Linked DNA regions of Homo sapiens: region 2 is linked to region 1. Evidence: fine-mapped expression QTL. A gene starts in region 1. The other region holds a variant in brackets. All regions are shown on one strand. Distances are between the middles of the regions.

Region 1 (2,500 bases):
TAATGTAAAGTTTAAAAATGTACTACTGGGCCGGGCGCGGTGGTTCAAGCCTGTAATCCCAGCACTTTGGGAGGCTGAGCAGGGCGGATCACCTGAGGTTAGGAGCTCGGGACCAACCTGGCCAACATGGTGAAACCCCGTCTCTACTAAAAATACAAAAAAATTAGCCTGGCTTGGTGGCACGTGCACCTGTAATCTCAGCTACTCGAGAGGCTGAGGCAGGAGAATTGCTTAAACCTGGGGGGCAGAGATTGCAGCAAGCTGAGAGAGCACCACTGCACTCCAGCCTGAGGGGACAAGAGTGAAACTCTGTCTCAAAAACAAACAAAAAGCTTCTATCTGGGGGCCAGGCAGGATGGCTCATGCCAGGCAGGAGAATCGCTTGAACCTGGGAAGCGGAGGTTGCAGCAAGCTGAGATCGCACCACTGCACTCCAGCCTAGGCGACAGAGTGAGACTCCATCTCAAAAAAAAAAAAGTACTAACATTTCGGTAACTAGACCCTGGCATTTATTAATTTTTTGATATATCAGGAGCTTTCAAAACTGCAAGTGGCAGCCCGTTTTCTCCACCTAGGAGGGCCGATGCCCCCACGGGTCCCTCTAACTTTTGGGGTCAGTGAGCGGCGGGGCAAGAAGAGATCAATCAGGGAAATCAATACAACTGGGGAATGTGGCCCCTTCCCTTGGTCCCCAAAACGCAGGGCTTGAAGGAAGCCCTCATGGAGGAAGTGGGCCTCGGGGTCCCCGGGGCCAGCACCACGCGAGGCAAACAAGGGCTCCAGGACCACAGTCTAAACACCCCCAGGCTGCCCTTGCCCTAGCAAAACAGCAAAGCGAGCAGCCCACTCCACACCGGTCCCCACTCCAGGGTCTCGGGCCCTACGTCGCCGGAGCTCTGGGAGAGCCGCGAGGGGGCGCACCGTGGCCTCGCTGCCCTGTCCGCCACAGGTGGGGTGACCCCGCCCACTCGGGGGGCCCGCTTCCCTCTGGCCACGCCCATTCCAGCTGCCTGGCCCCGCCTCCTCCCCGCCCACCCCGGCCGGGCCCCGCTCACCAGGCCGCCTCAGGTGGGTACGCCACGCCCCTCCGGCCCTGCGGCCCCGCCCCCGTCTGCCCCGCCCGCCTCAGGTGGGGCCGCCCGGCCCGCCCAGCTTCCTCTGGCGGCGTCCGGCCGCTTCTCCTCTGCTCCTCGAAGAAGGCCAGGGCGGCGCTGCCGCAAGTTTTGACATTTTCGCAGCGGAGACGCGCGCGGGCACTCTCGGGCCGACGGCTGCGGCGGCGGCCGACCCTCCAGAGCCCCTTAGTCGCGCCCCGGCCCTCCCGCTGCCCGGAGTCCGGCGGCCACGAGGCCCAGCCGCGTCCTCCCGCGCTTGCTCGCCCGGCGGCCGCAGCCATGTCCCGGGGGCCCGAGGAGGTGAACCGGCTCACGGAGAGCACCTACCGGGTAAGCCCAGGGCCCGGGGCTCAGGGAGGTCAGGGCTTTCCACCTCGGGGTTCAGAAGGGGACTTTACGCGGGAAGGTACTTTCCCTCCCTCCAGCTCCCCTCCCCCGCGTCCTTCCACCTCTCCCGGTCTCTCCCACTCCTCCCCTGGCCCTCCACAGCCCCTCTTCTTCCTCCCCTGGCCCTCTCCTTCCTCCCAGTCCCTCCCCATCCCCTCCCCCCTACTTTTCCTCCTCCTTCCCTCCCCTCCTCCCTGTGCTTCTTCCCTGTCTCTCTTTCCCGCCCCGCTGTACCTCTCCCTCTGCCCCTCCGCTCCCCGTTCACTCTCCCTCCTCCCCTGCCCCTCGACACTGTCCCTCCCCTCCTCCTGGTTCTTCCTTCTCCCCCGTGTGTCTCCCCCTCCTCCCCTGTCCCTTCTTCTCCCCAGTCTATCCCCCTCCCTCCCCCTCCCCCTCCCCCTCCTCTTGGTTCTTCCTCCTTCCCCGTGTGTCTCCCCCTCCTCTCCTGGCCCTTCTCCGCCTCCCCTGTCCCTTCTCCTCCCCGTCCCTTCTCCTCTTCCCTGACCCTCAGAGCTCTGGAGACCACCCCCCATCCCCTGACCAGCTACACATTTTACAACTAGTGCACTTAAGTTGGGGAGGGGTCTGTTGTGCGTCGGTGGGGCCCACGTCCTCCTCCCAACTTCTTGGAATCAGTGACCCGTGCTGTCCTGGCTGCCGGGCTTAAGCCCTCCGGGACCAAAGACACAAGCTCGAGTTTCCTCTAAGAAAAGAAAGCGCCCAAGAATGTGGGGGTGAAACTCCCCTGTAATTAGGATCGCCAGGTGAGCCGAGCTCTGGGCGTTCTCCCGGGAAACGCCCTCCTCCTTAGACCCTTCCTCTCCCACCTTTCAGTTGAACTTGGCTTTTATATATGGGTTATTTGGTGAGGTTCTTGAAGTCAAAGAACAACCGAGGTTTTAATGAAATTGACCTAACCTTAAGGAATGCGTTGATAGCCGGTCTCTTAACTTGCATGTATTAGGAGAGAATTTTTCCAGACACAGACAGAGACTTAG
Region 2 (3,004 bases), 120 kb after region 1:
CACTTGGGCACCGAGGTCTGCAGCCCTGCCCAGCAAGCAGCCCAGGCCCAAGCTCCGGCCCATCCGCTGCCCCCACACCTCAGGCCAAGACTGTCAGGACGGGGACAGCCCACAGGCCATACATATGGGCAGAGCCATCCCAGCTAACTCAGCCACTTCCTCAACCAGGGGAGCTCTGGCTTCCAGGTCACAGGTGGTAGGAGGGAGCAGCCCCTCCACCTCCATCGTCTGGAAGCCCAAGGCTGTCACAGGCTCCTTCCCCTCCAGCCCCTCCCGGGCTCCACAGTCACCACCCCGTGCCCTCCACAGCCCACCTCTGCCCCCCAAGGGCCGTGGCAGCCTCCACGCTGGCCACTGAGCCGCACCCTGGACCTCTGAGCGACATCCGCCCTCCACAGCTGTTCTTTTCACCTTCCCTAGGAAAAGTGAAATCCTTTCCAGGATTTCCTCTCTCTCTGGTCACCCCCAAAACTAAATACCCAGTGACAGCCCAGCCAGTACTCATGGGGGCCTGGTGCAGGCCAGGGGCCTTCCCCACTCCTGCCTTCCCCGCTTGCAGGACGCAGGCTCTGCTCCAGCCCAGGAGAGCCTCCCAGCGCAGCTACCTCATCCTGCACCTAGGTACAACCACACCCCCAGCAAAGAATGACTGGCCTCCCTGGGCAAGGGAGAACCTGGCTTCAGGGAGGCCCAGGCCTTGGGCAGGGCAAGGCAGGGCAGGGCAGGGCAGGGCAGGGGTGAAGCAGGAGGGTGGGAGGAGCAGGGACATATCCGCCGCCAGGCTGCGGAAATGCTTCCTCATAAACGGCTAGAAAGGGAAGATGGAGTCAGGCAGCTTCAGCGAAGGCCTGGCCAGGGCAGCAGAGCCACAAGGGACACGGGCTTCTCTGGCCAAGCCTCACTCAGAAGGACTAACAGATGTGTGACTTGGGCAAATTCCTGCCATGCCACCAGGCAGGGAGGGGGACAGAGCCCGGCGGGCTGGACCTGGGGCAGGAGGAAGTGTGGTCATGTGAGTGGTATCCTGTCTCCCGGGCCAAGACGCCAGGCAGCGGCCAGACGTGTGTGTTGTGTGTTCAGGGAACCGTCTCCACTCTCCTCGCAGAGAGGAGTGGCCCAGGGACCACACACCCCACCCACGCCAGCAGCAGAGCACCCAGCCCCCTGCTCGCCCTCTGGCTGCCACAGGGCACAGGGGCCCATCCCATGCCCAATGCAGCTGCAGAGGCAAAGCCTCGGGGAGCCAGAGCCACTCTCCAGCATCCAAGGCACCACGGGCAGAGCGCAGGGACGTGTGTGCTGGGAGGGCCTGGCTGCAACCCAAGGGGTCGCCGCAGGATCCAAGAGTGCTCTGGTCCCAACTTAAAGGACTAAGGACCCCCCAACCTTGTCCAGAGAGGACCCAGCCTCCACCCTGCCTGGTGCAGCTGCCCAGAGGCAGAGAGCAGTGATTAAGTAACCAAGGACCCCACACCCCTACAGCCTCTGAGGGCCGAGCCCAAGATCCTTCCCAGCAGAGCACAGTCTGACCCCGCTCCAGGTTCTGCATAACTGGAGAGCACCTCCAGGTTAGCGGAAGCCATGGGCCTCCGCAGGGACACAGTTCCCACCTAGGGAAGGGGAAGTGGCAGGGCCAGTGCCCCCATACCGACAGCAACTGCGCCACCACCTCGGCGCCCCCCAGCCCTGGGATATCTGG[C/G]CCATCCCTCGCTGCCGCTGGTCTCTCACCTCTCCAAGTTCAGGGGTTTGGGCAGAGAAGAGCTAAGAGCTTCAGAGACACCTCACCAGACACCCCCACGTCCCAGGTGGGGAAACAAGCCCCGCTGTTCCTGGCAGGACCAGGACCGGAACCCGGCTCCTCCGGCAGGCTGGACACCGGGATGGCAGGGCATGGACAATGACACGCAGGCAGACCCTCTGCTCCTCCATGTTCTGAGTCCCCTCCATGTGCCTTCACACTCACACAGCTCTGCCAGCCCCCCAACCCGGTGCAGCTCCGGGAGAGAACTATGTCCCGAAGGCAGCCAGCGCCCCACCCTGCCCTCCCTCCACCTTCACTCCAAAGGCTAATGTTTCTGCTGGGTGGTGACCAACTGTGTCAAACTGACGTCCCAGTTAGGGTTTGTCACGGGGTCCCTGTGCAGGCAAGCAGCCACAACCTGCCCCCGAGGTCCCAGCCTCTTGTCCCCACCTCTAGGTTGCCCTTCCTTCCCAGGAAGTTGCCTGCTAAGGCTCTGAAATCACTCACTTCCCCGTGACTCCACTCTAGGCCTTACACACACACTTTTGAAATCAAGTCTAAGTCCAAACCAGGGTTTCTTAATTCCATCTCAGTGGCTTCAACTTCCTCCTCCGAGACACAGCTGAAAACCCTGTCCCGGCCAACTCTGCCCCTACTTTCTAAGCAATCTGAACACCCCCAGCTGCCAAGGGTTTATATTTAATTAATCCTTATTTAAATGTGAATCCTCAAAACCTCCACAAAACAAGCCTCTAGCTGCACCTCGGGGCCCTATAAAAACCAAAAAGCGTGTGCAGGTCCAATGCGAGGATATGAAAAAAATAACTCCTGCCTCAAAGAAACACGGGGTTTCCATCCTGGTCCAGCTCGTGGAAGAGCGTTTCAAGCCAACTTTGGATAAAGCAGCTCTTACGGCCGTCGCTTCTCCCACTGAGGTCTGTCCTGCTGGTGCACTTACTTCCAAATGCCCCTTCCGGGAAAATGAAACCTTCCACCACCTTCGACGATCAACTGCAGAGTAAACTTGCGGAAAGTGAAGGAAAAAGCAGACACCTGATTCCTTGCAAGTCCCAGAACAAAGACGAAAGGACCACGAGTCCCGTTGTTACCATTTCTACATCCCAATCACTTGGGGTGCAATGCCCCAAGATCTAGGAAAAGGAATCCACCCTTTTGCCCCCACAAAATGTGTTCAGAGCCAAGGGTGAGCGGACCCGCACTCTCCCACACCGCATTCGGGCAGCCTGTCTGTCCCTCCCATAA

What was found.
Region 2: its variant is fine-mapped to the expression of BAIAP2L1 in whole blood (TOPMed, PIP above 0.99).

What each region holds. Positions count from the first base shown.
Region 1 is chr7:98,399,747-98,402,246 of GRCh38, reverse strand. BAIAP2L1 (BAR/IMD domain containing adaptor protein 2 like 1) reads left to right here and starts at 1,157. Exons shown (of 14, transcript NM_018842.5): 1 at 1,157-1,445. The coding sequence starts at 1,395. RefSeq lists a silencer at 824-1,483.
Region 2 is chr7:98,282,580-98,285,583 of GRCh38, reverse strand. All of the region lies in intron 2 of BRI3 (brain protein I3), which reads right to left. Among named protein-coding and RNA genes, the nearest start is that of BRI3, 2.4 kb to the right of the region's middle. The variant C/G (reference allele first, on the strand shown) is at 1,700.